Homo sapiens: one gene and its partners. The gene in region 2 interacts genetically with the main gene of each other region. Each region holds a gene or a part of one and is shown on either strand. Other genes may lie near its edges.

Region 1 (3,723 bases), on a different chromosome or scaffold from region 2:
CTTTATGTTTCTTCTTGCTGTCTATCAGCGTCTGAGGAACTATATCATATTCTACTTATTTATCTTGCTTACTTTCTTTCTTTCCTTCTTTCCTTTTTTTTTTTTTTTTTTTTTTTTTTTGAGACAGAGCCTCCTTCTATTGCCCAGGCTGGAGTGCAGTGGTACGATCTCGGCTCATTGCAACCTCCACCTCCTGGGTTCAAACGATTCTCCTGCCTCAGCCTCCTGAGTACTTGGGATTACAGGCATGCACCACTATGCCTGGCTAATTTTTGTATTTTTTAGTAGAGATGGGGTTTCACCATGTTGGCCAGGCTGGTCTCGGACTCCTGACCTCAAGTGATCCACCCACCTTGGCCTCCCAAAGTGCTGGGATTATAGGCATGAGCCACTGCGCCAGGCCTATTGGCCTCTTTTATTTGCATTGCTGCCTCTTTCTGTCACTGACCACCCCACCATCTCCCCCTCCCACTGGTCCTATCCTATTTCCCCTCTCCCTATGGCACCCTCTTAGCTGGTGTGGGGGGGCAGGACTCCCCAGCCCAGGTTCCCTGGCTCCCATCCAATGCCTGGCCTGGCCGGGGTGACCTTTGCAGTGACAGGCTCCCTGTCAGAGCTCCAGATTAGCTATGTCTGCCGGGAAGTGCTCCAGGTAAGGAGAGGCCTGGGGATTCTGGGGATGGGAGGGGAGGGTGGCCCCACTCCAGCCCCCAAACACTCACTGTCCCCTTGTCCACCCTTCTCCCCAGGGACTGGCCTATTTGCACTCACAGAAGAAGATACACAGGGACATCAAGGTGGTCTGGGGGTGTAGGGGTGCTGTTGGGGGGTGGGGCCCAGGAGATGGGAGTGGCATTTCAGGGGCTCAGGGATCAGGGTAGTTTGAGCTGGCGGAGTGGGCTAGCACTGGGCTGGGGAGAGTCTCTGCAGCCTCCCATATCCCCTCTCATTCCCAGGGAGCTAACATCCTCATCAATGATGCTGGGGAGGTCAGATTGGGTGAGTAAGGCTGGGGGTTGAGCAGGGGGGCTGACTGGGGGGCCGGAAGCGCAGTGGACCCCAGATCACTATGTCTCCCTCTGCTTCCAGCTGACTTTGGCATCTCGGCCCAGATTGGGGCTACACTGGCCAGACGCCTCTCTTTCATTGGGACACCCTACTGGTGAGTGGCGCCCAGCGGGCAGCTAGGGGTGGAGTGGGGGTCAGTGGTTTTTCCTACCCTGGTTCCCCGGGATCCTCTTTCCTGGCTCCGTTCCCCTGCCTCGTCCTTTCTCCTTGGAAGATTCTTTCATTCTCTCTGGGTGTCGCTTGAGTTTTCCATTTTCCTCTCTCTTTGTGCCCTTTTCTGGCCATTGCTCTCGGTGTTTGTGTTGATTTTTATCTTGATTTCTCTGTCCCTCCATATCCATTTCTGTCTTTTTCCTCTAGCTCAGTTTGCAGTGCTCTCTGTCTCTTTGTTTCTGTCTCTCTCACTCTCTGTCTCTGCCTCTCTGTCTTTTCATTTTGTTTTGTTTTTAGAGACAGGGTCTCACTCTGTGGCCCAGGCTGGATTGCAGTGGCATAGTCACGGCTCACTGCAGCCTAGAACTCCTGGGCTCAGGAGATCCTCCCACCTCAGCCTCCCAAGTAGCTGGGACCACAGGTGTGCACCATGACACCTGGCTAATTTTTAAAATTTGTGTAGAGATGGTGTTGTTTTTTTTTTTTTTTCTTTTTCGTTCTTTTTTTTTTTCTTGAGACGGAGTTTTGCTCTGTTGCCCAGGCTGGAGTGCAGTGGCATGGTCTCAGCTCACTGCAACCTTCACCTCCCAGGTTCAAGCAATTCTCCTGCCTCAGCCACCAAGTAGCTGGGATTACAGACGCCTGCCACCACGCCCGGCTAATTTTTGTACTTTTAGTAGAGACGGGCTTTCACCATGTTGGTCAGGCTGGTCTCGAACTCCTCACCTCAGGTGATCTGTCCGCCTTGACCTCCCAAAGTGCTGGAATTACAGGCAAAAGCCACCGTGCCCAGCCGAGATAGGGTCTTGATAAGTTGCCCAGGCTGGTCTCAAACTCCTGGGCCTAAGCCATTCTCCTTGCTCAGCCTCCCAAAGTGCTGGGATTACAGGCGTGAGCCATCGCGCCCCGTCTGCATCTCTGTCTTCATCTGCCTGTGTCTGTCTTTACTCCTGTCCCTCTGTCTCTCCATCTGACTCTCTGTGTGCTGCGTCTCCCCTCAACTCCTTCTCCTTCTCTGCCCCTCCTTCCCTTCCTGTCCCCATGCCACCTCTGGCTCTCTGAGCGTGTCTGCCCCCAGGATGGCTCCGGAAGTGGCAGCTGTGGCCCTGAAGGGAGGATACAATGAGCTGTGTGACATCTGGTCCCTGGGCATCACGGCCATCGAACTGGCCGAGCTACAGCCACCGCTCTTTGATGTGCACCCTCTCAGGTAGGCAGGCGTGGGGTCCCCAGGCCCAGAGATCCTGTCTAGCCCTGGCCCAAAGCCCACCCTCAGCTTCCGCCTTCCATCCCAGGAACCTCCAATTCAGGGATCACCACTTGAGCCTACCTTTGCACGTGCTGCAGCTCTATTTTTTAAATTTAATTTAATATTTTATTTTATTTTATTTTTTATTTTTTAAGACAGAGTCTTGCTCTGTTGCCCAGGCTGGAGTGCAGTGGCACAATCTTGGCTCACTGCAACCTCCATCTCCTGGGTTCAAGCTATTTTCCTGCCTCAGCCTCCCGAGTAGCTGAGGCTGCAGGTGTGCACCACCACGCCCGGCTAATTTTTGTATTTTTAGTAGAGACGGGGTTTCAACATGTTGGCCAGGGTAGTCTCGAACTCCTGACCTCAGGTTATCTGCCCATCTTGGCTTCCGGAGGTGCTGGGATTACAGGCGTGAACCACTGCACCCAGCCTATTTATTTATTTTTATTTTTATTTATTTATTTATTTTTGAGATGGAGTCCCACTCTTGTTGCCCAGGCTGGAGTGCAGTGGCAAGATCTCAGCTCACTGCAACCTCTGCCTCCAGGGTTCAAGTGATTCTACCACCTCAACCTCCCAAGTGTGGGATTACAGGTGCACGCCACCATGCCTGGCTAATTTTTGTATGTTTTGGTAGAGACGGGGTTTCACTATGTTGACCAGGCTGGTCTTGAACTCCTGACCTCAAGTGATCCACTTGCCTTGGCCTCCCAAAATGCTGGGATTAAAGGTGTGAGCCACCACGCCCAGACATTTTTTAAATTAATTAATTAATTCTTATTATTTTTAGAGACAGGATCTGGCTCTGTCACCCAGGCTGGAGTGCAGCGGCACGATCGTAGTTCACTTCAGCCTTGAATGCCGGGGCTCAAATGATCCTCCTGCCTTAGCCTCTCACATAGCTGGTCCTACAGACCCATATTGCCACACCCAGCTATTTAAAAAAAAAATTTTTTTTTTGTCTCACTATGTTGCCCCAGCTGGTCTCCAACTCCTGGGCTCAAGCTATCCTCCCGCCTTGGCCTCCCAAAGTGTTGGGATTACGGGCGTGAACCACCACACCTGGCCTTGCCATAGCTCTATCACTTCATAAATGGCTTCCCTTAGGAGAGGCACCCTGGTGCACTGTAAAACCTGAACCTCACTTCCATGCTGTTTCTCACTTTGCCCTCTGCTGACCACAATGCTACTAGGAACCCCTCAAGCCATGAGGTCTGGCCCCCTTGAGGGTCTGAACCCCATGTCCTTTC
Region 2 (3,723 bases):
GTGAGTTTGTCTGGTGGTGGAGAGAAAGAGGTGAGGTGTAGCTGGGCAGGGGGGCTTTCTCTGCCCCTCACCGAATCCCCATTCCAGGCTCAAGGGGCAGAAGTCCCCAGATCGCCTCAGCAGTCCCCCACAGTAGGCAATAAAAGCCTGAAAAGGAACGAGCCGGGCATTCTCACTTAAGAACAGAGAGTAAGCGTCACATGGATGACTTCTGTCTCCATGAGTCAGCTCAGTTTGTTGAAGTGTGTTTCAGGGCAAGGACATGTGGCTCCTGCGTAAGTGCCACCACCTTCTGGGCACTCGCTAGGCCTCGGGTCCTGTGCTGAGCTCCACAGGGATTATCTTAATCAGTTCTTGGCATAAGCTTATGAGGCAGGTACAGTTCACAAAGGAGTTGTGAAAGGGAAGCCTCAGAGAGGTTAAGTAACTGACCCAAGGTCACACAGCTAGCAACACGCAGGGCAAGGTCTGGAACTCGGAAGTTTAAACACGAGAGCTGGCACTAGCCAACCACTGTACACACCAGCTCTTTGCCGGGCATGCTGGTGGTTGAGTGTACAGATATGTACCCATCTGTGACCATGTGAATACGCAGGGCAGGCAGACGACACTTGGCCATCACCACCTCCCGTGTAGTGGGGGGCAGAGGAGGGCACAGCACCAGGTTTCAATTTATGGAATCATCCCTGGATGCCTGGTTCTTGGGGTGTGGTGGCGGTCACATGAGGGTTCACCCCGCAGCCCCACCGCAGAGAAATCCCACAGTGCCTGCCTGCCCAACCGCAAATCCCCTAATGGGCTGGGAGCCTCCCAGGTGTGTGGGGAGCCAGGCCAGGCTGCTTTCTCCGGGCCAGCCTGGGCCTGAGGCCTCCTGCCCACCAGAGGCCCCGCCTCACCCCGTCCCTGCCCGGCTGCCCCCGAGCACTCACGTCAATGTCCCTGATGTTATGCATGAGCTGGTAGGCGATGTCCTTACAGCCCTGGCTCAAGGCCTCAGGGGGCATCTCGTTGTCTGAGTACCAGTCCCGGTCAGCCGAGTGGGCGTAGGCGGCGCTGGGGGTGGCATGGTTCACTCTCGTGGTGGTCACAATGCCCACAGATTTCCCTGGGGTGCAGGAGGGGCGGGTTTGGCTTTATCCACAGATCGGGGTGTCCCAGAGGCCTCCTCCCTCCCTTCCCCCTCCCCGCTAAAGACAGGCCCCCGCTTCAGTTCTGAGGATTGCCCGGGTCTCAGTCTCCCCATCCACAGCAGCAGGTGTCTGGCAGTGGCTTCCAAGTAGCCGAGCAGCCAGAACACTGCCTCTGGAACCCTCTCCCCTCACCCCGAAGGCCCTTGAGATGTGAGCACCTGGGCTGGAGTCCTCCCCTTCATCAAGGCGCCCACAGGACCCCTGAGGGATCTCAAGTGGACTGTGGCTCTGTCACCTGTATGTTGGCCTTGTCACCTGTGTTTTGGCCTTGGCCCCTGACTAAAGCTTCTGGGGGCACAGGCTGGGCCTCCCAATTCTGAGGAGGGAAGGGGCGTGGCCATGGACTGCACCCCACAGGCTAGCCCTGGGCTGACTTCTCCCTCCTCACACCAACCCTATGAGGGGGCTACGTTCCCACCCGTTTTATAGTCAAATGAAGAATCGACTCAGAGAAATGAACTGGGACCAGAACCCACCACTGAGTGAACCCCAAACCCTCAGCTTCCCCTGTCACGGAAGGAATCCCATGGATATTACAGACTCCCAGCATATCAGAGCTGGGAGCCCCACAGAGAAGCCTTTTCTAGCCCCTTCCCATGACACAGTCAGAAAGACTGAGGCCTGGACAGGCCACGAAGCTGGCCCTGCTCCCCACTGCTCCCCCGACTCACCAGCGTCCTTGGCCCAGCGCAGGATGGAGGTGACCTCGTTCCCCTGGGTGGTGTTGCACCGGGAACGCTCAGTGGCTGCGCTTACCCCCACGGTGCCCTCATTGGCCTTCACCCCACACAGGTAGGCGGTGGCGGTGCCGGCACTGTCAGGGACCTGGGCATTGGTGTTGTACGTCTGCAGGTGGGAGAGGAGGGTCAGGAGATGGCCAGGCCTTCGCCCCAGTGGCACCCACCCCGCCTACACTCACACCATGGGGACTGGGGCGTGAGGGACCAGAGAGGACCCCATAGCCTTGACCAGGCCCACTGCCCACTGAAGCCCCCCAGAGCCACAGGACTACCTAGCTGCCTGCTTCCTGCCATCATTCCCTGCACCCTGGCAGCACTGGGGCAGGACCTTAGCTCTCCAAAGTACAGAGAAGTGTCCGGCGGAAGATTGGGGCTCAGGTGGGGTCAGCGGAGGCCTCTCTCCGGGCCTGGGGCTGCAGGAGCCAGCAAGGGGTTGGGGAGCAGGGGAGTCCTGGAGAAGGGAGAGGGAGGGGCCTTCTTGAAGGAGTGGGGGGTCTGGGGATAGGGTAGTGAAAGTGAGGGGGAAGGGGACTGGGGAAGGGAAGGGTGGGGCCAAGACCAGCGCTGACTTCTCTGCCACCTGCCCTGCGGCCACCATCACAGGGTTGCCCTACATCCGGATGTTTAGCAGAGACCCCAAAACTATTTGCCTGTCTCCCTTCCCCACCAGCCTGAGAGCACCTTGAAGGCACAGAAGGCACCATAGTCCCCACTACTCCCCCAGAAGTGAGCCTGGGGCCTGACCCAGGGTCTGGAGGTTATTACATAACACCACTATCACCACCACCAATAGCAATAGCTACCCGGCAGTGCACACTGCCTTGAACAACCTAGGTCAGTACAGGCACACCTCATTTTAGTGTACTCCACAGACACTGTGTTTGTTACAAATTGAAGATCTGTGGCAACCCTGTGTCAAGCAAGTCTATCAGCATCATTTTTTCCAAAAACATGAGCTCACTTCATTAGCGTTTTTTAGCAATAGCATATTTTTAAATTAAGGTATATACATTTTTTTAGACATAATGCTATCCCACACTTAAAAGACTACTGTAGGGTGCAAACATAACTTTTATATGCACTGGGAAACCAAAAAATGTGTGACTTGCTTCATTGCAATATTTGCTTTATTACAGTGGCCTGGAACCAAACCCGAAGTATAGCTGAGGTATGCCTATAGTCTAATTAACTTCACGAACTGCCTCGGGAAAGAATGAATGAACTGGAACTTCATGCAAAAGTGTATACAGGCCAGGCACGGTGGCTCATGCCTGTAATCCTAGCACTTTGGGAGGCCAAGGTGGGCAGATCACCTGGGGTCAGGAGTTCGAGACCAGCCTGGCCAACAGGGTGAAACCTTGTCTCTACTAAAAATAAAAAAATTAGCTGGGCATGGTGGCGCATGCCTGTAATCCCAGCTACTTGGGAGGCTGAGGCAGAAGAATCACTTGAACTCGGGAGGCAGAGGTTGCAGTGAGCTGATGTCATGCTACTGTACTCCAGCCTGGAAGACAGAGTAAGACTGTCTCAAAAAAAAAAAAAAAAAAAAGGCATATATAGGCCGTGCATGGTGGCTCACGCCTGTAATCCCAAGACTGGGAGGCCAAGGCTGTAGGATCGCTTAAGCCCAAGAATTAGAGACCTTGGGGGGGTCTCTAATTATCCATATGTGGTGGTACACACCTGTAGTCCCAGCTACTCGGGAGGCTAACGTGGGAGGATGGCTTGAGCCCAGGAGTTGGAGGCTGCAGTGAGCTATGACTGCACCACTGCACTGCAGCCTGGGCAACAGA
Region 3 (3,500 bases), on a different chromosome or scaffold from region 2:
TGGGATCCCGGAATGTGGCTGCCAACCCCAACACCTGGAAACCCCTCCCCATCCCGCCCCCTCAGCTTGGGGCACCCATAGCCAACTCTGTACCACCTGTGGGTGATCTTTGGTAGAACTAATCCCACTTTGGGTTGACAGCAGGTTACGTAGGCTACTAGTTTGCATCAACCCAAGGAGTGGAGATAGATAATCCATGGGGAAAGAATGATATTTGAGCCCCATTTTCAGTCACCTCATCAAGCCCTCAGCGTCTTACTTGTATTACATTTGTTATGAATTCACATGAGCAGCACTCATGCTAGAATGTAAACCCAGAAACCTACTCCAGAGCCAAATGATTTGCAGGGGTGAGAAGGACACAGAGAGGAGAGGCTGAATCTCAGCACCCCACTCTCAAGGCGGCATGAGTCACCTGTGCAGGAAGCCCTCGTCTCCATCCACTGATCTTGGAACTGCAGAGGGAACTCACTTTTCCATGAGAAGAGTCAGAAGACCACTCTGGGGGGCCATAGCGTTCCACAGAGCAAACTGACCCCAGTGTGGACTCTCAGTCTCTCTGGCAGAGTTCTTTAAAACACACCAGCCATAAAACAAGTTAAACGTTTTTTGTTTTTGTTTTTGTTTTTTTCTTACTAGGTCATGTTCACGGAGGAGGATGTCAAGTTCTACCTGGCTGAGCTGGCCTTGGCTTTAGACCATCTCCACAGCCTGGGGATCATCTACAGAGATCTGAAGCCTGAGAAGTAAGTGAGAAAAAACTAGGGCTGACTTCCCCACGCCCATCAGCTCCATGTATTTTCCTGGCCCATGTTGGTAGCCACTGCTAGATATTTATTTCCTAAATGAGGACATATCAGAGAGCAGGCTGGGGAGACTCTTGTGCCGGCAGGACCGGCTCAGGCATCAGGTGCCCAGATGCAGGTGTGGCCTTGCTGATTTGCATAGGAAATGCCCAGGCCCATTCTCACCTGACACTCATAACGCCTGAGGGAGGCCAGGCTCAGGTGCATGTCTGTGATGCACGGGAAGCCGGAGCTGGGGAGGGGCACGCCCACGACCCTGACCCACATTCCCGCCCTCTCTCCTGGGTGAGGCTCATCTGGCCACTGGGGACCATCTCAAACATGGCTGCCTCCAGGGCAGTTTCTCCTCCTCTCTCATCTCTTCCCTACTGTCCTCCAGATTCAGGAAGCCCTTTCATCTACTTCAGCAAGTCCCAGGAATGTGGTCAATGAACCTCTACTCAGTTACTTGTCAGCCCCACCTCTAGGTCCCCAGTCAGAACAGCTCTCCCAAGAACTTACCTAAAAGACAACGGCCCCAGAATTCTCAGACCCAGAGTCCACTGAGATTTGTATATCCTTGGCAGTGGTGACCTGTGAGGCTATTATTTCTACGATATTTTGCTAATCTATTCTAGATTTTTGAACAGTAAAGTCCCTCCAAAATAATAGTGTTCCCATTTTCATTTTGTTGTTGTTGTTTTTACATATTCTTTGTAGACCTGACACATAACTAGGAGTGATCCACTTAGAAAAGAAGAGATTTGGAGGATGGTATTTTAGGTTGAGTTGACCTCAGCAGTATCCCTGAGGTGATCACTCACTCTTCCCTGCCCTGAGGGGCCGATTAATGCCACCCACCCAGACCAGGGCCCATAGCCGCCCCTAGATGAGGCATCACCTGTGGCCTGGTGGGACCGACCGGCCTTGGGTACCACCAGAGAGCCCCGTGCCTGTGAGCTAAGACCAAGGGGGGGCCCTGGGGTCTGCAAACGCGTCCCAGTTGCTACTCCACATTCCTGCCCTGTCACCTGCATGGAACTGAGAAAAGACAAGCCCTGCTCCGAAGCTGGTGTTGTTAGATGCAGCTGTCATCTATGGGAAACAGCTGGGTTTACCCAGAAACCAGGTCACATCCCATATCCACTGCAGGATGCAAAATGCATTTGCCCATGTGCTTGATGATCTGACTTCACCACCAGTCCGTGGAACGCCACAGGCACACATGTGAGTTGAATACGTGTGTAAATACAGCTGGAGCATCCCTCATCCGAATCTGAAATGCTCCAAAATCCAAAACTTTTTGAGCCCCAATGGGACACCCCCCAGTGGAAAATTCCACACATAAGCACTTAACACAAACGTGGTTTCATACACAAAATTATTTAAAATATTCTATAAATTAGCTCCAGGTGATGTGTAGAAGGTATATATGAAACATAAATGAATTTTGTTTCATTTCAGACTTGTGGCCCATCTCCAAGATATCTCATTATATATAAGTAAATATTGCAAAATCCCCAAATCCTAAACACTTCCGGTTTCAGGCATTTCAGATAAGGGATGCTCAACGTAGAATCAAAAAAGACTTTATCCAGAGTAATCCCATGAAGAGAGCAGCCTCCGCAGCTGCTGTCTCCCCACAAGAGCAGCAGCACAAGGCCAGATTTCCATTTCAAAGTGGGTCTGACCTAGAACCCCGTGGTGCTCTGAGCCCTGGGAGTCCCCTTTCGCCTCTCCTTAATTGGGAGGTGATTGCAGAGCCTGGCCTGTCACCTTGGGTCGTTGCCAAGGTCATCCCAGAAGTTAACCTGGTATTAATTACCCTCCAAGTCGGAGTGCCGTGTTGTGAGTCTGTGTGGACGTTGCCACTCCTCCTCCTCGTGCGGCCCTGGCTGTTGACGCCTGTGTGTTAGACACACTCCCCGTGCATCCACTCAGGCCGGGAGTGCCGGTTCTCATTGCTCCTGAAGGTCAGCGTGATCCTTACAGCTAAAAATAGCCTTATTTAATTGCAAGCTTGAAGGAAAAGGTTGTGTTGTTCAACTAGAATTATTAGAGAATTAATCTTGAAAGGTGCTTAATTCTGGGCAAAGATTGAATATGCCCAAAAGGCAAAGATGAAAAGATTTGCCTTGTTCATTATAAATTGTCATCTTAATTACATGCTGTAACTTTTCCTTCCCATTTCCAGAAAATAGTGGTTATTTTTTTAACTCTGTGGCAGATTTTTTTTAATTGTAGAAAAATACACATGACTTTTACAGTTTTCACCACGTTTAAGTGCCCAGTTCAGTGGCATTAAGCACGTTCCCATTGCTGGGCCCCCATCCCCACCGTCCATCTCCAGAACTGTTTCATCTTGCAGAACTAAAGCTCTGTCCCCCTGCACAGTAGCTCCCCAGCCCCCGGCACCCGCCATCCACTTTCCATCTCTGTGACTCTGGCCCCTCTAGGGACCATACATTTTATATTTGTAAAATCATATAATACCTGTCGTTTGGGGACGGGCTTATTTAATCGAGCATAATGTCCTCCGGGCTCCTCTGTGCTGTAGCAAGTCAGGCTTTCCTTCCTTTCACAGGTTTCTATAAAGGTATCACAGATTAATCCTCCAAGCCTTGCCTTTGTTTCTTTCCAGCCCACTTCCTGGTCTCTTTAGGGCTAGGCTGGTACCTCCCAGCATCTGGAAGAACAGGATTTAATTACAGCCAA

The links.
Region 1: changes in ALPL (region 2) and MAP4K1 together harm fitness less than expected from each alone (positive genetic interaction), as found in Homo sapiens cells (one large-scale study listed by BioGRID).
Region 3: changes in ALPL (region 2) and RPS6KA2 together harm fitness more than expected from each alone (negative genetic interaction), as found in Homo sapiens cells (one large-scale study listed by BioGRID).

What each region holds. Positions count from the first base shown.
Region 1 is NC_000019.10:38,611,319-38,615,041, reverse strand, and holds part of MAP4K1 (mitogen-activated protein kinase kinase kinase kinase 1), read left to right. Parts: intron 1-596; coding exon 597-652; intron 653-749; coding exon 750-797; intron 798-956; coding exon 957-999; intron 1,000-1,089; coding exon 1,090-1,162; intron 1,163-2,299; coding exon 2,300-2,431; intron 2,432-3,723. UniProt on the Homo sapiens protein: Serine/threonine-protein kinase, which plays a role in the response to environmental stress. Appears to act upstream of the JUN N-terminal pathway.
Region 2 is NC_000001.11:21,561,423-21,565,145, reverse strand, and holds part of ALPL (alkaline phosphatase, tissue-nonspecific isozyme isoform 1 preproprotein), read right to left. Parts: intron 2,037-3,723; coding exon 1,862-2,036; intron 1,106-1,861; coding exon 930-1,105; intron 1-929. UniProt on the Homo sapiens protein: Alkaline phosphatase that metabolizes various phosphate compounds and plays a key role in skeletal mineralization and adaptive thermogenesis.
Region 3 is NC_000006.12:166,501,752-166,505,251, reverse strand, and holds part of RPS6KA2 (ribosomal protein S6 kinase alpha-2), read left to right. Parts: intron 1-639; coding exon 640-746; intron 747-3,500. UniProt on the Homo sapiens protein: Serine/threonine-protein kinase that acts downstream of ERK (MAPK1/ERK2 and MAPK3/ERK1) signaling and mediates mitogenic and stress-induced activation of transcription factors, regulates translation, and mediates cellular proliferation, survival, and differentiation.